Linked DNA regions of Homo sapiens: region 1 is linked to region 2. The links come from fine-mapping of genetic effects on gene expression. A gene starts in region 2. The other region holds a variant in brackets. All regions are shown on one strand. Distances are from middle to middle. Region 1 overlaps PNPT1 (polyribonucleotide nucleotidyltransferase 1). Region 2 holds the start of CFAP36 (cilia and flagella associated protein 36).

Evidence for each region. PIP is the estimated chance that this variant, and not a neighbour inherited with it, causes the effect.
Region 1: its variant is fine-mapped to the expression of CFAP36 in whole blood (INTERVAL, PIP above 0.99). The same link has a PIP of 0.9 or more in CD4 T cells, Th17 cells and Th2 cells.

What each region holds. Positions count from the first base shown.
Region 1 is chr2:55,646,386-55,658,430 of GRCh38, reverse strand. It overlaps PNPT1 (polyribonucleotide nucleotidyltransferase 1), which reads left to right. Exons shown (of 28, transcript NM_033109.5): 16 at 2,060-2,126; 17 at 2,211-2,300; 18 at 3,478-3,531; 19 at 10,978-11,084; 20 at 11,945-12,016. Among named protein-coding and RNA genes, the nearest start is that of PPP4R3B-DT, 34 kb to the right of the region's middle. RefSeq lists an enhancer at 7,760-8,372. The variant TA/A (reference allele first, on the strand shown) is at 6,657.
Region 2 is chr2:55,513,942-55,525,986 of GRCh38, reverse strand. It overlaps CFAP36 (cilia and flagella associated protein 36), which reads right to left and starts at 6,269. Exons shown (of 10, transcript NM_080667.7): 1 at 6,071-6,269; 2 at 3,821-3,885; 3 at 2,165-2,266. The coding sequence starts at 6,185. RefSeq lists enhancers at 5,489-5,738, 6,919-6,968.

The sequences.
Region 1 (12,045 bases), 130 kb before region 2:
ATTGCCAGCCACCTCAAAAGCCCCTCCATGTTCTTCATCCCAATCTCAATACCCGTCGTCTCTTAAAAGTAGGTAACTACTCTCCTAAGTTTTACAGTAATCATCTTGGATTTCCTGGCTCCATTTTTAGATACTATAGTTTAGTTTTGTTTTTTTCTTTAAAACATTTGGTATTTCCTTTTTTGTTTTAGTTTATTTGAGACAGAGTCTCACTCTGTCACTCAGGCTGGAGTGCAGTGGCACCATCTTGGCTCACTGCAACCTCCATCTCCCAGGCTTAAGTGATCCTCCTGCCTCAGTCCCCCAAGTAGCTGGGACTACAGGCACCACCACACCCCGCTAATTTTTAGATTTTTTACAAAATGGGGTTTTGCCATGTTGTCCAGGCTGGTCTCAAACTCCTGGGCTCAAGCAGTCTGCCTGCCTCAGCCTCCCAAAGTGCTGGGATTACAGACATAAGCCACTATGCCCGGCCTGATATTTCTTTAAGTCTTTTTAAATCTATACATTTCTCCTCCATTACATTCTTTTTTTTTTTTTTTTTTTTTTTTTTTTTTTTTTTTTTTTTTTTTTTGCAGTCTATCTATTGAAGCCCCATAGCCATTTGACTTATAGTCTCCCACAGTCTGGGTGTTGCTGATTGTACACTCATGGTGCAATTCAACATGTTCCTCCCCCCTCTCTATTTCCTGCAAATTGACCGCTAGATCCAGAGGTTTAATCAGATTCCTGCTCCATCCACTGCATTTAAGAGCGGTGGCTCATGCCTGTAATCCCAGCACTTTGGGAGGCCGAGGCGGGCGGATCACCTGAGGTCAGGAGTTCAAGACCAGCCTGACCAACATGGTGAAACTCTGTCCTACTAAAAGTACAAAATTAGCTGGGCATGGTGGTGCATGCCTGTAATCCCAGCTACTTGGGAGGCTGAGGCAGGAGAATCGCTTGAACCCAGAAGCAGAGGTTGCAGTGAGCCGAGATTGCACCATTGCACGCCAGCCTGGGCAACAAGAGCAGAACTCTGTCTTAAAAAAAAAGAAAAAACAAAAAAAAAATTCTTGTTAATCTGGAATTACAGATATTTGGGGGAATTTTTTTTTTCTGTTTTAAAAAAAGGGTCTCTGTTCCACAGGCTGAAGTGCAGTGGTGCAGTCTCGGCTTACTGCAACCTCCACCTCCTGGGTTCAAGCAATTCTTGTGCCTCAGCCTCATGAGTAGCTGGGATTACAGGCATGCGCCACCACGCCCTGCTGATTTTTCTATTTTTAGTAGATACAGGGTCTCACCATGTTGGCCAGGCTAGTTTCAAACTCCTGAGCTCAAGTGAGCTGCCTGCCTTGGCCTCCCAAAGTGCTGGGATTACAGGCATGAGCCACTGCGCCCGGCCTGAAATTACAGATTTTTATGGGAAGTCTTCCTATTGTCAAATGATCACAACTAATTCATATTCCTTCAAGGTAACATATCCACCAAATAAAACAGTTTGCAACCACTGGCTAAAATAAAACCCTTATGGAAAAGAGCTGTTTCCTCCATACATTTTTGTCATTGTGTTTTGCTTGAGAAATACTTCAAAATATGCAACTTTCCCATTCATGTATTTTGTTTCATATCTGAAAAAGTTAGTGGAGAGAGATAACTCTAAAAAGTATCAGTGTAAATTAAATTTCAATTTAGTGAAATAAATGTGGGCTTTGCTATGGAAAAAAATCTGTGATTCTTCAATGTGTACTTTTTAAATATGTACATATTTTTACTTATTACAAAAATATAACGTTATTGTTAATAATTTAAATGTAATGGAAATTTATGGTGTAAATCCCCATACCCATCCAGTTCCCACATCCTAATCCATGTACACACTTGAAATAGCTACTTTTAACCATTTGGTATGTATGTTAAATTTATATCATACGTTTTCTGTATATTTATGAATGTACTTTTTTAAAAAACAAAAATGAGATTCTACTGTTCTATAAGTTGTTTTATTATTTTGGTAATATAACTTGGACATCTTTCTATGTCAATTGTATATGTGTGTTTGTGTTTTTTTTTTTTTAAGTTTCCTCCTTATGCAACTAATGAAATTGGCAAAGTCACTGGTTTAAATAGAAGAGAACTTGGGCATGGTAAGTACAGGTCTGTAAACTTAATACGGTATTCTTACAGAGACTTAATACATTTTTTACTTATTGTTTTCTATTCTAATTTAGGTGCTCTTGCTGAGAAAGCTTTGTATCCTGTTATTCCCCGAGATTTTCCTTTCACCATAAGAGTTACATCTGAAGTCCTAGAGTCAAATGGTATGGTATTGAAATACTTCTTTCATAGTAGAAAAGACCATATTCCCTATTCTATTATTAAGTTTTCAAATGTAATGTTACATTTTGTTTATTACTACAGAACCCAAGTTTGTTGCAAGAGAAAAATGTATTGAGTTAATCAAATACTTGTCTTAATCTCTGTTCTTAGCTAATGAGTTGTTTTGAAAGCAATATAAAACAAATGTTTTTCTTTATCTGTTATAGTAGATCCAGTTTGGCTTGTTTCTTTATTTTTACAAACAAACCACAGAACAAGGTTAACAGAGAGAGGAAGGGCCAAAATAGAGTGATCATTAGGCAGGAGATACCTGTCACATATCCACATGAATAATAAGTGTACATCACAGAGGGAGTCTAGGCCAAGAGGTCACATTTAAATAAAAAATTTGTCCATGGGTCAAGGTACGGTGCAGTCATTAAAGGCAGAAAGGTCATGGAGTTCTTAAAGGTGTAACAGACGTAAATCAGATAGTCACAGATTTTGAGGAAAAAATACCAAGGTAAACTCAGAATTTTAACTAAAGACTTTGTGGTTCTCTACTGGGTGTGACTAAATTAATGGGCTTATGAGAATGAGAGAGCCAAAGCCCTATATCTTTAACTACTTCTGATAAGCAAGACAAAAGATATGCACTAGGAAGTCTATTAGAATATCTGTAGCAATACTATGCAATAGAACTTTTTGTGATAGGCTGGGCTTGGTGGCTCACACCTGTAATCCCAGCACTTTGGGAGGCCAAGGCGGGTGGATCATAAGGTCCAAAGGGTCTAACTTGGTGAAACTCTGTCTGTACTAAAAATACAAAAAATTAGCTGGGCGTGGTGGCAGGCTGAGACTCCATCTCAAAAAATAATAGTAAAATAAAACTTTTTGTGATGATAGAAATCCTCTTTATCTGTCCTATCTAGTTGAAGAATTAAATTTATTTTAATTGATTTAACTTTAAGTCACCACTTATGGCTAATGTCTACCATATTGGACCTTGCAGCCCCATAGTTTATAGCTTAAAAGACCTTGCCTTAGTTGCTTTTAAAAAGAAGAGACTATTGAATATTTGTATTGTAACTGAATATTTATAAGGAAATAACCAATAGTAACACTTTTCTACATTAAAAAAATCAGTTTAATATAAAGCAGTTATTTTTCTTTCTATAGGGTCATCTTCTATGGCATCTGCATGTGGCGGAAGTTTAGCATTAATGGATTCAGGTAAAAGAATTATGTCTCAAAACTGCTGATATTGCTCATGCCTGTAATCCCAGGCATGAGCCTTGGGAGGCCAAGGCAGGAGGCTCACTTGAGGCTGGGAGTTCAAGACCAGCCTGGGCAACATAGCAAGACCTCATCTCTACAAAAAAGATTAAAAAAAAATGCTAACCTTTTATACACACCTGTTAGTATAAAATATAAGATTTCTTTAAATTTGGGTTTTAGTAAAACTCAAAGTCAGATTACAGATGGCCAAATCAAGCCAGAGGCAAGATGGCTGAAAAGTAGAGCTTCAGATATCCAGATATCTGCTGGAATTCTTATTTTTAGCTAAAAGCAGTACACTGAAAAATTTTTATTTGCATTGGTGACCCAGTAAACTTTATTTCCTTCCAAAAGGTAGAGAGCTCCAGAATTGATTCCAATCACCAAGGAAGTTTTGATTAGTAAGTACTATTAGGAATCATAAGAGAAAGCAACTGTAATCTTTCAGTCGATTTATACAAGCCAAGAGAACAATGCCACTCAGGCGTGTACACACAATTTTAGGAAGGCGGACTACAAATGTTTCATTATAATCCCCAGGTCTGAAACGCCAAAAACGAAAGCATTATGCTAGGAGATTTTTTTTTTTTTTTTTTTTGAGACAGAGTCTCGCTCTGTTGTCCAGGCTGAAGTGCAGTGGTGCAGTCTCGGCTCACTGCAACCTCCGCCTCCCAGGTTCAAGTGATTCTTCTGCCTCAGCCTCCTGAGTAGCTGGAATTACAGGTGCGTGCTACCACGCCTGGCTAATTTTTGTATTTTTAGTCGAGACGGGGTTTCACCATATTGGCCAGGCTGACCTCGAACTCCTGACCTCGTGATCCACCCACCTTGCCCTCCCAAAGTGCTGGGATTACAGGCATGAGCCACCACACCTGGCCGCTAGGAGATTCTTAAAACCAATTCGTGCCAAACTGTCATGAATGCTGCTATTCGAGAAGAAAGAGAGAAGGAACCTAAAGACACTAAAGAGGCCACAAAAGGATTTCTCTGATAACTTAACACATTTACAGTACTGGCATGAAAGATAGAAAAGAGGGCCGTGAATAACAAAGGATTAAATGAAAACATGGTTTGAATATATAATAATATTATCTAGAAAAATTGAAACTAAAAACAGGCCAAAGCAAAAAATGCAAAAGGTACTTTTGTAATTTATTCAATAAAGGAAAACATAATCTGATATTTAAGGTAGCTGGTAAAATACTGCTGCTACTATTTTCATCTTCATTCTTTCACTCTACAAATCTTTACTTTGTGGCACCTATGTGCCAAGCACTGATCTAAGTTGTTAGGACATGGTGATGAACAAAACAGTCTTAGACTTCATGGCACTTGTGTTTCTCAGTCTTCCAAATCTCATACTGGAAAACACTGAACAAATCTTGAAAAAAGTAAACTGAAAAATAAAAGATGACATCATAGGGGAGTCTTTACCTGCCATTTTTAAATGAATTCAGATCTTTTGGTCTAGACAAAAACTCATCCTTGACTATAATGAGAACTTCAGGATTAGATTACTGAAGTATGATGGCAGTCATTGAGAAATCGTGGAGACTAGTATCCCAAGGACAGAAAACGTTCTTATTATTGGAAGAGAAGAAAAGTATTTTCTATAAAGTATAACCCAATGAACTTGATCGTGACCCTCAACAAGACTCTTAAGAACTTAAAAAAAGAATGGTTTATAAGTAGTTTAGAAAGGAAAGGGGCCAGGCACAGTGGCTCATTCCTGTAATTGCAGCACTTTGGGAGCCTGAGGTGGGTGGATCACTTGAGGTCAGGAGTTTGAGGCCTGCCTGGCCAACATAGTGAAACCCCGTCTCTACTAAAAATACAAAAATTAGCCGGGTGTGGTGGCCCACGCCTGTAATCCCAGCTACTTGGGAGGCTGAGTCAAGAGAATCACTTTAACCCAGGAGGCGGAGGCTGCAGTGAGCCAAGATCGTGCCACTGCACTCCAGCCTGGGTAACAGAGTGACTCTGTCTCAAGAAAACAAAAAAGGAAAGGGACTACAGAAAGAAGCCAGAAGGGACTTCTCTAAAATAAGTCATGCCATAGTTAATTCACTTTCTGTTTTGAAGAAATTACTGCATTTGCAGTAGAGGGTATTGCTGTTGGTGTGATATATCTATAATTCAGCTTTACGGTTTATGATATCTTTATGATATCTTGTGTAAATGATGCAGAAATTTAGACTAAATAATAGGTGCACCATTCATACTGGTTAAGGGATGAGCAAAGGGACTGCTTAATCTGATCAACAGGTCAGAGAATGATCTCAAGTTGAAGACGTGAGGATGCTTATTTCAGCCCTGTCTCTTTCAATGTTGACTTGACTGAGAACACTGGCCTGCCAGTAAAAATACTGCCAATAAAAATACTGATTAAAAGGAATGGGTGACTGACAAAATTGAGCAGGATAAAAAAATATGGAGCTTAATAGTTTAAAAATTAAATTTGAAGCGTTAAAGCCAAAAACCTCAAAAAAATTAAATTTGATAAGAATGAATGTCAAGTCCTGTGGGATGGGCCGATACAAGGTATGCAGTTCAATTCAAATATGAATTTGAATTGCTAGAGTAGGGCTTGCCCTGCCCTAAGTCAGGCACTGTCCTATGCCCCAGGGATGCAAATTGTACCCAGTTTTTGAAAAAGCTTAAAGGTTTGAAAACAAAAAGATACTAATAGATTGAAGAGGTAATAATACAAATATGTGTAAGGGTGATTGTTGAACTAGGCTGAGCATAATTGGCTGAGAGAGACTGCTACATTTCATCTGATTTTAAAGGCTGAGTAATTGTTGACTGGGCATATTAGGAGCAGGGCCTGTATTTCACATGAAAGGACCAGCATGTGCAAAGTTAAGAAGTTACAGTGTAGTGTGTTTCAGGAATCTACTCGAAAGAGGTGTTAAGGTAATAAAGTAGAACCATATGTTGAAGGTTATTGTTTTTTTTTTTTTTTTTTTGACTTTCCTTTTTATCTTTGTCTTCTCTTTATTTCCTAGTTGTTTCTAGTCAGAGGAAGGATAGCTTTATACAGAAATAGGATTTTTTTTTTTTAATTTTTTTTTTTTTTT[TA/A]AATTGATCATTCTTGGGTGTTTCTCACAGAGGGGGATTTGGCAGGGTCACAGGACAATAGTGGAGGGAAGGTCAGCAGATAAACAAGTGAACAAAGGTCTCTGGTTTTCCTAGGCAGAGGACCCTGCGGCCTTCCGCAGTGTTTGTGTCCCTGGGTACTTGAGATTAGGGAGTGGTGATGACTCTTAAGGAGCATGCTGCCTTCAAGCGTCTGTTTAACAAAGCACATCTTGCACCGCCCTTAATCTATTCAACCCTGAGTGGACACAGCACATGTTTCAGAGAGCACAGGGTTGGGGGTAAGGTCACAGATCAACAGGATCCCAAGGCAGAAGAATTTTTCTTAGTACAGAACAAAATGAAAAGTCTCCCACGTCTACCTCTTTCTACACAGACACGGCAACCATCCGATTTCTCAATCTTTTCCCCACCTTTCCCCCCTTTCTATTCCACAAAACCGCCATTGTCATCATGGCCCGTTCTCAATGAGCTGTTGGGCACACCTCCCAGACGGGGTGGTGGCCGGGCAGAGGGGCTCCTCACTTCCCAGTAGGGGCGGCCGGGCAGAGGCGCCCCTCACCTCCCAGACGGGGCGGCTGGCCGGGCAGAGGGGCTCCTCACTTCCCAGTAGGGGCGGCCGGGCAGAGGCGCCCCTCACCTCCCGGACGGGGCGGCTGGCTGGGCGGGGGGGCTGACCCCCCCACCTCCCTCCTGGACGGGGCGGCCGGCCAGGCAGAGGGGCTCCTCACTTCCCAGTAGGGGCGGCCGGGCAGAGGCGCCCCTCACCTCCCGGACGGGGCGGCTGGCCGGGCGGGGGGCTGATCCCCCCACCTCCCTCCCGGACGGGGCGGCTGGCCGGGCGGGGGGCTGACCCCCCCACCTCCCTGCCGGACGAGGTGGCTGCCGGGCAGAGACGCTCCTCACTTCCCAGACGGGGTGGCTGCTGGGCGGAGGGGCTTCTCACTTCTCAGACGGCGCGGCTGCCGGGCGGAGGGGCTCCTCACTTCTCAGACTGGGCGGTTGCCGGGCGGAGGGTCTCCTCACTTCTCAGACGGGGCGGCCGGGCAGAGACGCTCCTCACATCCCGGACGGGGCGGCAGGGCAGAGGTGCTCCCCACATCTCAGACGATGGGCGGCCGGGCAGAGACGCTCCTCACTTCCCAGATGGGATGGCGGCCGGGAAGAGGCGCTCCTCACTTCCTAGACGGGGTGGCGGCCGGGCAGAGGCTGCAATCTCGGCACTTTGGGAGGCCAAGGCAGGCTGCTGGGAGGTGAAGGTTGTAGCGAGCTGAGATCACGCCACTGCACTCCAGCCTGGGCACCATTGAGCATGGAGTGAACGAGACTCCGTCTGCAATCCCGGCACCTCAGGATGCCGAGGCTAGCGGATCACTCGCAGTTAGGAGCTGGAGACCAGCCCAGCCAACACAGCGAAACCCCGTCTCCACCAAAAAAATACGAAAACCAGTCAGGCGTGGCGGCGCGCGCCTGCAATCGCAGGCAGTCGGCAGGCTGAGGCAGGAGAATCAGGCAGCAGTACCGTCCAGCTTCAGCTCGGCATCAGAGGGAAACCATGGAGAGAGGGAGAGGGAGACCGTGGGTAGAGGTAGAGGTAGAGGTAGAGGTAGAGGTGGAGAGAGGGAGAGAGGGCAGGATTTTTTTTAAGTAAGAATTCTTTACCAATCCTTCTTTCCCCAACATAAAATCTCCTATTTGAAGTGGAGTTTGAGGTAGGGACTCGAGAGGCAGTGCCTCAAGAAAGCCACACATTGTACAATCTGAAGGTTATTGTTACGCTAAGGAGTTTGGACTTAAAGCCAGCATTTTTCCAATTCAGTATTCCATGGAATAGTGTTCCACAGGACATTGATTATTGTATACCATGAAAAAGTTTATTCTGTTCTAAAGTTAAGTTTCAGCAGGGTTAAGCAGGTTTATTTAATATGGATTAAATAGACTTTAATAAGCTAATCCGAATACTGACTCTCTAGGAATAGGACATGTAATATTTTTCCAAATTTATTTGACCACAGAATATGTACAAAAATTTCCTGAAAGTAGGCAATGGGGAACTTGAAGGATTTTATGGAAAACAGTGGCATGATTTGAATCTGCTTTTGTTTTTTCCAAACAGTTTTTCCCAGCTTAAGTGATGAATAGCCCTGCGGAATGAGATGGGAGAGACTAAGAAGCAAAGAGAGAAAGTAAAATCTGGGAAGCCAGACAGGGAGATTGTTGCCAGGGCAAGAAATGATATGGACTCAGACTAAAAAGTTACAATAGGTATTTTAATATTTAGGGTAAAGGACAGCTTTCTAAAAAAATAAACAGATCTTTGTGACTTGATGGGATATAGGAAATGAGGAAAGAAATGTTGATTCTGGCATGAGTGTCTTAGTTGCTTTCAACCAAAGAATGCAGGAGGAAAAGGATTTTTTGACAGTGATTCAATTTTGAACATATATGTATTTCTTTCATCATCATCATTATTATTATTTATAGAGATGAGGTCTCAATATATTGCCCAGGCTGGTCTCAAATTCCTGAGTTCAAGTGATCCTCCCATCTTGGCCTGCCAAAGCGTTGGGATTACAAGCATGAGCCACTGGGCCTGGCTCAATTTTGAATATATATTTAAGGTGCTTTGGGGACATTTAGCTGGAGATGTCTGACAGGGAGTTTACTAATACAGGTCCAGGGTTTGGCACAGATAGCTGGACAGGAGGGATAGATTTTTAAGTCATCAACATTATAGATGGTGGTTAAAATCGTAAGTATAGATGAGGTTGCTTAGAGAAAATGAAATGAGATCCACACTCCTTTATACCAAAGTAAATTCCAAGTGATCAAAACTTAAACATTTTTAAACAAATGAAAGATGGTAGGTTTTATCAAAATCTTGGAGAAGAAAAGCTCTGCTAAGCAAAACCCAGAAACCATGATTACGTAAACTAAAAATCCTACACAGAAAACTAATGACCATAAGCAAAGTCAACGAACTAGGAAATAAAATATTTTATTTATATGTTATTAAACATAATATTTTATCTTTACATTTTAATAAAGCTCTGTCCATATTGAAAGAAAATCAGTAATAAAAAGACTGCCAACCAAGTAGAAAAGTGTTGAAGGCCATGAACAGGGAGTTCTCAAAATAAGACATATAAATAGGTTTATGAACATGAAATAGTTTTCAACCTCAGTCATAAAAAACAAGTCAGATTTAAAATAACCATTTTTTACACTTTAAATTGAGAAAAATCAAAAGATTTGACAAGAATTAATAAGAATATAGAGTAGCATATACCTTCTTACACCACTGGTAAAAGTTTAAAATGCTATGTCTTTAGAAGGCAGTTTGACAGTCTAACAAACGTAAATGCACATACCTTTTGACTCAGCAATCGCACTTCTGTGTGTGACTTGTAAAACATACAGGGAGTACTAAAACTATTCAAAGGAATAAAGTAGAGCTTTGTGTGGTGGTATGTGTCAATATCCAAGACATGTTATTAAGTGAAAAAGGCAAGGTGCAGAACAGTAAATGCATACAGTCTGCCGCCACGAGTAAAGAAAACAAAAGATTATATTTACATTTATACTTGTGCACAGAAATTTTCTAGGAGGATACACTAATGTTAGCTGCCATGGGGAGGTAAACTGAGGAGTTCAGGCTGGAAGAATTTACCAAATAGATGCTTACTTTCCAACAAAAAGAAAATAAGACACCTGAAGCAAAAAAGCAAACCAACGGATAATTTAAAAGTTATAAAGTTTGCTATTGTTAGAGAAGTTTTTGCTGGATATAGTACTTGTTTACATTGTTTTAGGGAACTTTATTATATGTTCAAAAACAAACGAAGTAGTCAGATGACCTCTTAAGACTTCCAACTCAGCTTCGGTGATTGTCAATTTAGGCAACAATATCCACTTACATTAAAAGTAAATGTCTGCTGGGCGCGGTGGCTCACGCTTGTAATCCCAGCGCTTTGGGAGGCTGAGGCTGGCAGATCACCTGAGGTCAGGAGTTCAAGACCAACAGGGCCAACATGGTTGAAACCCCATCTCCACTAAAAATACAAGCAAATTAGCTAGGCGTGTTGGCGGGTGCCTATAATCCCAGCTATAGGGGAGGCTGAGGTGGGAGGATTGCTTGAACCCAGGAAGCAGAGGCTACAGTGAGCCAAGATCATGCCACTGCACTCCAGTCTGGGCAACAGACCGAGACTCCCTCTCAAAAAAAAAAAAAAATTGATAGATAAATATTTGTTTTAGGCTCATGTACACATTACCCACAGTTGTTCTTTTTCCCAATTATAGGGGTTCCAATTTCATCTGCTGTTGCAGGCGTAGCAATAGGATTGGTCACCAAAACCGATCCTGAGAAGGGTGAAATAGAAGATTATCGTTTGCTGACAGATATTTTGGCAAGTATATTCTCGGTTTCAAATATTTAATAATGAAGACTAAAAATAAATAAATAAAAATTAAAAGATAAAAACAAATAATGGTGAAGACTATATGTACTTTGCACCTAGCGTATGCTTAGAAGAATGCTAGTATTTGAAGAACAGGTACTTGTTCTTCCCTTCCTCCTCTGCATGTTCACCTTGTATCTTATAGGATATGAATTTAAAATAGATATTATATTAATAGTAATAGGCCAGGCACAGTGACTCATGCCTGTAATCCCAGCACTTTGGGAAGTCAGGAGTTCCAGACCAGTCTGGCTAATGTGGCAAAACTCCATCTCTACTAAAAATACAAAAATTAGCCTGGGCATGGTGGCACACACCTGTAATCCCATCTACTTGGCAGGCTGAGGCAGAATTGCTTGAACCCGGGAGGCAGAGGTTGCAGTGAGCCAAGATCGTGCCACTGCACTCCATCCTGGGCAACAGAGCAAGACTGTGTCTCAAAATAAGTAAAATAAAATAAAATAAAATGATTACTTTAAAAAAATAGTAATACTTACCCTTAAGTATTGCAGTAATACTTACACAGTGTAAGTATTCATAATGACTCACTTTAGGATGAGCATAAATTCATTCTCAGGCATTTATGAGGGAAAGGAATGATCTAAAAATAAAATGATGTTTCTGGTGAAAATAATTGTAGCTTAAAAAGTCACAAATTGGAAGTGGTAGTTAATGTAGAAAACATTGCTTTGTGTTTGGACTTAGGATATGGTTTACTTCTAAAGCTGTTTTTTGAAATGTTTCTACAGTGAATATGTTGACTTTTGTTTTTGTTTAAAACTATGTCATAACTTTTTAAATTCCTGAAGGGAATTGAAGATTACAATGGTGACATGGACTTCAAAATAGCTGGCACTAATAAAGGAATAACTGCATTACAGGTATTTTTAAAACCCATTTTGTTTCATTT
Region 2 (12,045 bases):
CCAGGTTAAGGGACAGCATGAGCAAAGGTAGGTGTACAGATGCTTATAAGAGCAAGGGGCAGCAGGGCGTGGTGGCTCACGCCTGTAATCCCAGCACTTTGGGAGGCCGAGGCGGGTGGATCGCCTGAGGTCAGGTGTTCCAGCTTGGCCAACATAGTGAAACCCTGCCTCTACTAAAAATACAAAAACTTAGCCGGGCATGGTGGTGGGAGCCTGTAATCCCAGCTACTTGGGAGGCTGAGGCAGGAGAATCACTTGAACCTAGGAGACGGAGGTTGCAGTGAGCCGAGATTGTGCCATTGCACTCCAGCCTGAGCAACAAGAGCGAAACTCTATCTCAAAAGAAAAAAAAAAGAGAGCAAGTTACCTGGAATGGCAGTAGAACATAATGTATTGGAGAACTATAGCAAGGGATCATGGCTAAAAATACAATCTGGAGTCTCATCTTAAACAATTCTTACCATATCTTGCTAAGAAATTACAGTTTATTTAGTAGAAGATGAGATGCCAAAGCCAATGTTTTGTTTTTTGGGGTTGGGTCCTAATCTGTTGCCCAGGCTGGAGTACAGTGGCATGATCTTGTCTTACTGCAGCTTCAACCTCCTAGGCTCAAGTGATGCTCCTACTTCAGCATCCTGAGTAGGTACTCTGGGGAGAACACCACCACAACCTACAACAAGCTAACTTTTATATTTTTTTTAAAGATGGGGTCTCACTATGTTGTCCAGGCTGGTTTCGAACCCCTGGCTTCAAGCAATCCTCCTGTCTTGGTCTCCCAAAGTGCTGGGATTATAGGCATGAGCCACTTCCTGGCCTTCAGTTTTTGAGCAAAAGGCTACTTGGGTAGTAGCAACATATCCCAATCCTCACCCTCTGAGCAAGGGCACTCAGTTGGCTTGCCTGGGCTGGGGATACTGGCTCTACTACTTATTTAGCTGTGGACTTTGGACTATTTGCTTAATATATCTGTGCTTTGGTTTCCTCATTTCTTTTTTGTTTTTTTTTTTTAGACAGTTTTGTTCTTGTTGCCCAGGCTGGAGTGCAATGGCGCGATCTTGGCTCACCACAACCTCCGCCTCCCGGGTTCAAGGGATTCTCCTGCCTCAGCCTCCCAAGTAGCTGGGATTACAGGCATGTGCCACCATGCCCAGCTAATTTTGTATGTTTAGTAGAGACGGGGTTTCTCCATGTTGGTCAGGCTGGTCTCGAACTCCCGACCTCAGGTGATCTGCCCGCCTCGGCCTCCCAAAGTACTGGGATTACAGGCGTGAGCCACTACTCCGGGCCTGGTTTCCTCATTTCTAAATGGAAGTTATATAGTAGCAGTTTCTTAAGAGGTGTCAGGAAGATTAAATGAGATAAAACATGTCAAGTGCCCAAAATATCAATTAGCACAAGCCCTCAATAAACATTAGTTTACAGGCTGGGCGTGGTGGCTCATGCCTGTAATCCTAGCACTTTGGGAGGCCAAGATGGGCAAATCCCTTGAGCCCAGCATTCAAGACCAGCCTGGACAACACAGCAAGACCCTGTCTCTACAAAAAAAAAAAAAAAAAAAAAAAAATTAGCCATGTGTGCTGGTGCGGCACCTGTAGTCCCAGCTACCAGGAAAGTTGAGATGGGAGGATTACCTGAGCCCAGGGATGTTGAGCCTATAATGAGCTGCAATCACACTAAACTCCAGCCTGAGCAATAGAGTGAGACCCCATATCAAAAAAACAACAAAAACAAACATTAGTTTATAACATATGTATTACTACTTCAGCCTAGCACTACACAACCAGTAAGATAATACAAGTAGTTCCAAGAGAAGGAAGCAGCAGCAGGAACTACTGACTGTGGATCTGCTAAAATTATAAAAGGAGCAACTGCAGAATTATTGGAGATCTATGTAAATAAAACAGTAGTTTGTATAAACCCTGTGATCTTATTCTAGTTCTGAGTTTAGAAAGGTCACTTTGAGTTGCATCAGTTCATTAATGCCTCAAATTATCATTTTTCAGGGTTGCTCTCAAAAAGAACTCATATGTGATGAATTATCTTTCTACCTCTCACAATGTCTAAAATATTACACTTTGTCAATCAAACATTCAAATTTAAGTGAGTGTTTAACCCTGGGCATTTGTTAAAACTGTATGTTAGCAGAATAACACAAAGCAAAAACCTGTGATGTATGGGTCTTTGCAAGAGGAGAAGTGCATGCTTCTTGAAATTGATCTTCATTAATTCCAATTTCTTTGAGGTAACCTTCTAACAGCTTTTCAACCTAAAAAAACAAAGTTTAACTTTTATAATTACATAGAAAAATTCTACATGACAGTTTGCATATTAAGTATTTAGTTTAGAAAAGTATCATCGAATTTTTTGCAAATATTAATCTACATATTACATGACAGTGACATTGTCTTTCACCAAAACACAAATTAAAAGTTAATATTTTTGCTGAAAATCACATGAAATTGTATTTCTTCTAATAGAAATAGTTGAAGTCAGGATTATGAAGTTCAATGTGGTACAACTCTTCTGCTACCCAGAGGCATTTTTTTTTCTTCTTTTCTTTTCTTTCTTTTTTGAGATGGAGTCTCACTCTGTCACCCAGGCTGGAGTGCAGTGGTACGATCTCGGCTCACTGCAACCTCTGCCTCCCAGGCTCAAGCAATTCTCCTGCCTCAGCTTCCTGAGTAGCTGGGACTAGAGGCGCCTGCCACAATGCCCGACTAATTTTTTTTTTTTTTTTTGGTAGAGATGGCGTTGCACCATGTTGGTCAGGCTGGTCTCGAATTCCTGACCTCAGGTGATCCGCCTGCCCTGGCCTCCCAAAGTGCTGGGATTATAGGCATGAGCCACCACGCCTGGCCTTTTCTTTCTTTCTTTCTTTTTTTTTTTTTTGAGACAGAGTCTTACTCTGTTGTCCAGACTGGAGTACAGTGGCACAGTAATGGCTCACTGCAGCCTTGACCTTCTGGGCTCAAGAGATCATCCTCCCACTTCAGCCTCCCAAGCAACTGGGACTACAGGCACATGCCATCATGACTGATTAATTTTTGTAATTTTTATAAAGATGGAGTTTCACCATGTTGCCCAGGCTGGTCTCGAACTCCTTGGCTGAAGCAATCCACCTGCCTTGGCCTCCAAAGTGCTGGGATTATAGGTGTGAGCCACTGAGCCCCACTGCCAGAGGCATTTTTTAAAATCACAAGACAGGCTGGGCAGTGGCTCACACCTGTAAACCCAACACTTTGGGAGGCCCAGGCAGGTGGATCACTTGAGCTCTGGAGTTCCACACCAGCCTGGGAAACACAGAGAAACGCCATCTCTACAAAATACAAAAAAATTAGCAGGGCATGGTGGTGCACACCTGTAGTCCCAGCTACTCAGGTGGCTGAGATGGGAGGATCGCTTGAGCCTGGGGAGGTTGAGGCTGCAATAGGCTGTGATAGTGCCACTGCACTCCAGCCTGGGTGACAGAGCAAGACCCTGTCTCAAAAATAAAAAATAAAAAAATCACATGACAACCATGACGAAGTGAATAATTAATATGTCCCTGGATGCGTCAACAAAATAAGAATAAGATATAAAGAATACATGCAAGAACCCATAAAGAGTTGTAAAACCATTCCTTAGAGTAGAGGAGATAAGTCATCCAAATGAGATATTCAGAGCACCTGTGGAGACAGATATAACTGGCACTATTGTTAAGGTAGATTGGATTTTTGTAAAATTAAGGATTTTTAATGTAAAAATATTTTTCTTCATTTAGAAAAGCTATAAGTAGTATTAGCCTAATTACTTTTAAAAATCAGTGAAAAAAAATACTCACTAGTTCTTTGTATTCCTGATGAATCTCTGTATAGGTCAATTTGCTTTCTTCTTCATCATCAAAAACTAAATTTAAAAGAAAATATTACATAGTGTAAAAACCAAATCATTTTATTAATGCAAATTTAAAAATCCACTCCTTCCAAATAGAACTGTCAACCTAGCTCTTCAGCTTTGAATTCTTAGGGTTTATCTTTTAAAAATATATAAATGAATATATCTAAAAATATATACTATTGGCCGAGCACTGTGGCTCATGCCTGTAATCCCAGCACTTTCGGAGGCCAAGGTGGGTGGATCACCTACGATCAGGAGTTCGAGACCAGCCTGGCTGATGTGGTGAAATCCCATCTCTACTAAAAATACAAAAATCAGCCAGGCGTGGTTGTGCGCGCCTGTAGACCCAGCTACTCGGGAGGCTGAGGCAAGAGAATTGCTTGAACCCAGGAGGCGGAGGTTGCAGTGAGCCAAGATTGCACCACTGCACTCCAGCCTGGGCGGCAGAGTGAGACTCCATCTCAAAAAAAAAAAAGAAAAAAAAATATACACACACACACACACACACACACACATATATACTATTAATTGTAAACAAGCTTTTTTGCCTACTTGAGAAAATATTTAAAATGAATACTACCTCATATTTAAGACAAAAACACATTTCAATCAATATGAGGCAATAATTTCTTCATAACTTTTAATGTAATATTATTGTTAATGGTTAAATCCTTTTACAATAGGTTCCATATTATTTTATTGTACTGGAATTTTGCTGATGTAAATGTTACTGAAAGTGACCAGGCAATTTTTGTTACCACAGATAAATAATGAAGTTAAATAAAATCAAAACAAGTGTTTACTGAATGATCATATGTATAAAACAATGCAGTGAGCCAAGATCACGCCACTGCACTCCAGCCTGGGCAACAGAGCGACACTCTGTCTCCCAAAAAAAAAAAAAAAAAAGGAGTACAAATACAAGTTATTTTGTTTTTGAACATTGTTAAAAAATTACCTGTAAAAATAACACTTTAATAACTACGATTTGAATATTGATTATAGCAATGAAAATGTAATGAAAAGATTCAGTGGTCAAACTGAATTTCATCTTTACCAGATTCATGATATCTTGGAATTTAAAGAAGTCTTAAAAGGTCATCCAGGATAACCGACCATTTGATAGCTGAATAGCTGAATCCCTCTAACCCTATTAAGTCGCTATCAGATCCATTCAAACACTGCTGGAGCCGGGAAGCTCATTACCTTCTGAGGCTGGCTAACTCATCTTGGATACATTCTATCATGAAACACTTCCTTCACTGAAATTTGTTTCCCTGTAGCTTGTACCAACTGACCCTAGCTCTATTCTACTCAACCTTACAACACAAAGCAGATGTTCAAATAATTGATGAATACTACTACCCTCAAAGTCTTGCCCGATTAAACAACCACAATAACGCTTGGGCACTCATTTATATGACGTGGTTTCTGGTTCCTTTTCTGCGAATGGGCTGCAAATAGTCTCCACGAACTGAATGCAGAACTCCAAGCCTGAAGAACTGCTCAGAACCCGGAGATGCCTGTCCTTCACGGGGAATATTATGCCATATCTATACGCCTCATTTGTTCCAAGAATGGTCCTGCCCCACCTCGCCAATTTTTGGTATAGCGAAGAGTAGAGAGCTCACCAAGGGGAACACAGGCCACCAAAATCACCGGCTCTGGGCTTCCTGGAGTTATCACATGCCCTCCTTTGCAGTTAACTGTTGGTTTGGAGTGAAATCATTTCTCATTTCCTAAGCTGACTACACCGGGCGAAATGCTAGGGATCATAAGGAACTCAGGTAAACCGACGCTTCTCCTCTCAAGTCTGGCAAAGCTGTTGAAGAAGCCCAGCCAAACAGTCCACCTGCCGAGGGCAGAAACGTTCGGGACAGGGTGAGAGACCGAATTTACGATTCAAGTCTAATGTTCTTCGGACGTGCGCTTCGGCCCCAGAGAAGGGGAGTCTCGGTCCCCGTTTTCAGGTCTGCGAAGGAACACATTGGCAGGGTGAAAGGAATTCCTCCCACACAACCAGCTCTAAACCTGATGACGCGGGTGGAGAAGGTGGTGAGGGGAACGAGACCTTGCGACAGGGGTGGAGACAGGGGGTCGGGGAGACGAGAGATGGCTTGTGGTTACCAACCCCCTGCCCGCCGCTGGTGTGAGAGAGGAGAAAAGGATTGTCGGTTCGGGCTCTGGTTTTTACCTTCACATTTCTGTTCCACAAAGTCCAAGATGGGGATGGACCAGTCTGGGCCTCGCAGGAACCCCGCGATGCTCTCCACTACCCACTCCACCTCGTCTTCTTCTTCCGCAGCCATCCCGCCCCAAAGGGGCAACGGGGAAGATCCCTAGGCCAGACCGCCGGACCCCGGTTAGGCCTTTGGGCCACAAGGAGCCGAGAGGGAGTAGGGGAAGAGCTGGCCCGCAGTCGCTCAGCCCCCAGGATAGAAGCTACCAACCAGTTAATGCAAAATGGTCGCTATGGCAACACACGTAGCCGCCCTAGACCGCGGCCCGGAAGTGAAGACAACTTTCCAGGAGCCTGCGCACTTAGCGGGGAGGGCAAACGTTTGAAAAACGTTTCTGATTGGTTAAAAAAGAACAGTGGACGAGGGCTGAGAAAAGAAGTGTAGCTATTGGCTGGAAGTCATAGACAGATTGCGCTCTCTCTTCTGATAAATGCGTAGGAGCCAAGGTTTAGAAAACGCGCAGTAGACGGGCGCGGTGGCTCACGCCTGTAATTCCAGCACTTTGGGAGGCCGAGGCTTGCGGATCACCTGAGGTCAGGAGGTCGAGACCAGCTTGGCCAACATGGTGAAACCTCGTCTCTACCAAAAATACAAAAATTAGCCTGGCGTGGTGGCGCCGCCTGTAATCCCAGGTACTCGGGAGGCTGAGGCAGGAGAATCGCTTGAACCCGGGAAGCCGAGGTTGCAGTGAGCCACTGCACTGCAGCCTGGGAGACTGCGTCTCAAAAGAAAAACAGGAAGAAAGAAAAGAAAAAAGAAAAGGCTCAGTGAGGGTCTGAGGTAACCGGGTCTCCACCTGACAGGGCTTCAGCGGCTGCAGTTCATCATTGTATCCCCAGCACCTCAGTCCCAACCATTTTCAGACCATTGGCCCAGAGGCGTTTGTAATTAAAGGGTTGTCTGAAAATACAAAGCCGAGCTGTGTGAGACTCGCTGATTGTCTTACGGTCAGTTTGCATCTGTATCTTCAGGCGGGTCTTTAATCTCTTACGCTTGGATAAAGATAACTAGAATTAGGAGCTTTTCAAGGGCAAGAGCAAAGTTAATACTCACTTAAATAAATGCCTTGGTAACCAAATCTTATTATAACTCCAACTCAGCATTTAGGTGGAGTCCATTGTGGAATGGGGTCTTCAGTGGTCATTGTGAAGGTGTTTGGAGTCCCAAAATATCTTCAGACAACCATATATATATATATATTTTTTACATAAATAGGATTATATGTACAGTTATGAATTTTTTTCTTATATCTTTATCTTTTAAAAATATAAATTTGTGCTTTCTTTGCAACTGCATAGTATTCCATAAACCATCCTTTAGTCTATTTTTATTTTGTGAATGTGCACACAGTATCTTACCTGAATGCATGAAGATGATCATTATGTGCCTTTTTTTTTTTTTTTTTTTTAGACAGAGTCTCGCTCTGTCGCCCAGGCTGGAGTGCAGTGGCGTGACCTCAGCTCACTGCAACCTTAGCCTTCTGGGTTCAAGAGATTCTCCTGTGCCTCAGCCTCCAGAGTAGCTGGGATTACAGGCATGTGCCACCACACCCAGCTAATTTTTGTAGTTTTAGTAGGGACAGGGTTTCGCCATGTTGGCCAGGCTGGCCTCGAACTCCTGACCTCAGGTGTTCCGCCTGCCTCGGCCTCCCAAAGAGTTAGGATTACAGGCGTGAGGCACCGTGCCTGGCCATGTGCAATTTTTTTCTTTTTCCTCCTCCGTGCTGTGGATTTGCCATTTTTTGCTTCCACAAACTGCTGTTATAAATGTTGCATCCTGAGAACTGTTGGTTTTATTTACTATTCCAAGGGATAGATTCCAGCAGAATTGCTAAATGAAAGAATATATATCTTGGTTAATTTGACCAAACCTCAACTGCTACATTAAATTACTTGAATTTTTTAAACCCGTAAACAATTGTGTAATGAATATACTTGCACATATGTTTTTGAACCCTAGTCTCATTATTTCCCTCGAACAAATTCTCATGGGAAAATTACTGAACTAATTATTTTAATTATTATTATTATTTTTTTTTTTGAGACGGAGTCTCGCTCTGTCGCCCAGGCTGGAGTGCAGTGGCGCAATCTCGGGTCACTGCAAGCTCCGCCTCCCGGGTTCGCACCATTCTCCTGCCTCAGCCTCCCGAGTAGGCGGGACCACAGGCGCCCGCCACCACGCCCGGGTAATTTTTTGTATTTTCGGTACAGACGGGGTTTCACCATGTTAGTAGCCAGGATGGTCTCGATCTCCTGAGCTCGTGATCTGCCCGCCTCGGGCTCCCTATTTTAAATATTTTTAAAAAATAGTCTTTGCCAATCTACTAGGTTAAAATGATAGCCCCCCCCACAGCCCTTTTTTTTTCTCGAGACAGAGTCTCGCTCTGTCACCCACGCTGGAGTGCAGTGGTGACATCTTCGCTCACTGCAACCTCCACCTCCCGGGTTCAAGCGATTCTCCTGCCTCAGCCTTCCAAGGAGCTGGGATTACAGGCACCCGCCACCAAGCCTGGCTAATTTTTGTATTTTTAGTACGGGCAGGGTTTCACTATGTTGGCCGGGCTAGGCTGGTCTCAAACTCCTGACCTCAAGTGATCTGCCTACCTCGGCCTCCCAAAGCGCTGGGATTACAGGCATGAGCCACCACGCCCGGCCTCATCCACACTCATTGTTCAGCATTAGAGTCTTTCTTTGTCTTCAGTCTCTTCCAAATGCTTCTCAATTCCACTGGAAGCAGATAACTATGATGTAAGAGTTTTCCTTTCTTTTATTTTCTTAGCCTTGTTTCTAAATCTCTAAATCTAAATGGGCAATGTGGATTCCTTCAGGCCTGCAAGTTCTCTCATTTGTTTCAAAATATTTTATTATTTCATTTTCTCCTTAAAACATAAGGCTTTTCTTTTTATTCATTGCTTGAGATTCTTATAAGCAGGATGCTTACACAGATTTGAGATAATGTATTCAATACGCTTATCATAAAATAAACTCAGAAGAACAGCTTGCACACTGTTAGAGCAATGCATATGGATGTACTGGGGCAAGAGTAAGAAGATAGCATGGGTGTGTGTTACGCATAGGTCATTTAGCAGTGTTTTCAGTGTTTCACAGTAATGCAAAGCACAGTCATCTCTTGGAAAATCACAACTTATTTTGGCAATTTTATTACTCCTTTTACTGTTCTTACCACATAGGAACAAATTTTAATGTTAAAGATATGTATAACAGGCCGGGTGCGGTGGCTCATGCCTGTAATCCCAGCACTTTGAGAGGCCAAGGTGAGTGGATCACTTGAGGTCAGGAGTTTGAGACTAGCCTGCCCAACATGGCAAAACCTCGTCTCTACTAAAAATTAGCTTGGCGTGGTGATGGGCGCCTGTACTCAGCTAATTGGGAGGCTGAGGCAGGAAAATCGCTTGAACCTGGAGACAGAGGTTGCAGTGAGCCGATATTGCACCTCTGTACTCCACCCTGGGCAACAGAGTGAGACCCTGTCTCCAAAAAAAAAAAAAAAAGATACATGTAACAAAACTAAAATAGATGCACACACATAAATAAATATATATACACAGTACATGACACACATACACACACCAAGCACTTTTACCATGGGGTTGATAAAGGCTAGGATTACAGGCGTGAGCCACCGCGCCTGGCTGAGAACACATATTAAAAGTACTTGGGATTATGCTAGGTACTTAGTAAATGCTTAATACATATTAGATATTGTTATTGTATGTAGTTTAGGTATCGGTTTGCTTAAAAATTTGCAGCATGAATGCAAGGAACTATTCATTTTATTTTGCCTCTTCTTTCAATGACAAATCATTTGTGTTTTTTGCTGCAGCCCTAGGAAATCTCTTGCTTCTCCCCATCCCCTGTACTGATACTGAGTGTCTGCCCTACTAAAGGAATATAAAATTCAAATCGTAACAACATGACTGCATTTTCAAGGACCTTGTGAATAACAATTATTCACATTTATATAGTACTTTACAGTTTACAAAGAGATTACATCTATTTGACTTACAGCAAACTTGTGAGCTAAATAAAGATGATATTAAGATTTTCTCCCTCTTTTAAATGGTGTATTAGTTTGCTAGGACTGCTATAACAAATTACCACAGACTGGGTGGCTTGAGCGGCAGACATTTATTTTCTGAAAGTTCTGAAGTCTATGTCTCTGATCAAGTTATTGGCAGGGTTGGTTTCCTTTGAGGCTTCTCGTCTTGGCTTGCAGATGGCTGTCTTCTCCCTGTGTCTATACCTGGTCTTACCCCTATACAGCCTATGTACTAATCTCCGTTTCTTATAAGCATATCAGTCATATTGGATTAAGGCCCCCTAATAACCTCATTTTAACTTAATTACCTCTTTAAAAACCTTATCTCCAAATATCGCATTCTGAGGCACTGTGGACTATCACTTCAGCATATGAATTTGAGGGTAACACAAATTCCACACATTAACAGATGGAAGAACTGAGTCTGTGAGGTCAAGTGTCTTGCCCAGGCTCAGAGCACAGTCAGGACTTGTTTTCTGTACTAGACACCTAAGCAACAAGGAAACTTCTAATTTTCACTTTCTGATATATCATGGAATTTTTTCCACATCATTGAAAACACTTCTACATAATCCTTTTTAATATTACCTAGTTTCCCATTGTGTGATCATAATTTATGTAAGCAATCCTGCATTGATCTAAGATGTTTCTTGCACTTTTTAAAAAAATATGCCTGGGAAACATAGCGAGACCCTGCCTCTGCAAAAGAAAAAAAAAAATTATCCAGGAATGGTGGCAAGCACCTGTAGTCTCAGCTACTCAGGAGGCTGAGATGGGAAGATTGCTTGAATTCAGGAGTTGGAGGCTGCAGTGAGCTCTGATTACACCACTGTACTCCAGCCTGGGCAACAGAGTGAGACCCTGTCTTAAAATAATAATAATAACAACAATAATAATAATTCTACTATGAGCACCCTTGTAATTAAATATTTGCCACTAACCTTTATCATTTTGTGAAGATGAATTCCTAAAAGTAGAATTGTTGAATCACACATTATGCGGCTTTTAAAGATACTTCTACTTACTTTTTTTAAGAGTTAAGTATTGCACCTCCTACAATAATCATGGTTAAATGTTAAGTAGTTATCTTTTTTATAGTAGTGTTTTATATTCATGAGTCTACACATCCATACACATGCACAGATATATCTCAGATAGTTTGGATATTGCAAAATTAATCAAGGAAAGACTATTGTGAATTCTGGAGGAGGCTGACTCATTAATTTCACGAGTGGATCTCCAACTCCAACACAATGTTTGGCACTGAGAAACCCTCATTGAATATTTGATGAATATCTGAATGATAATCTAAGAATATAGTGCCTTACATTTGCCTAAAAATAATCTATTTATCTTTGCTGCCCCTGGGAGAGATGGTAAAGTTGTAACTACTGCAAAACAGGATTTCATTTTGTTTTAACACTAACAAAACATGCTTACATTCTAGATCAGAGGGCTTAAAGTAACTATTAGCAATAGGCTTAAAAATACCCACACAATGGAAGTGTTATTTTAAAAAATAATTTATAGACCGTATAGAACGTCACTAATGAATTCAGCTTTCAAGAGCAGGAAAAAGGTCACTGCTTTAATCCTGTTAATTGCCTTTATTCTGGCTCTAGAAATTTTAGAAGTTCTAAATTATAAGTTCATTGCAAATATTCTTATTTGATTATTTGGCTCATATAACGGCAAAGGAATAGAGGAGGTTTCCATGGGTTGGCAAATAAATAATTACCTGTCATATTTTGAAATTCTCCCAATGAGTTGTTACCTTTTTCATTGCATTTGCAAATGTAACATCACAAAATTGCCATTGTTTTTTCAATTTTTTTGTTTTCTGTTTCTCATAATCTATAAAATATTCAGC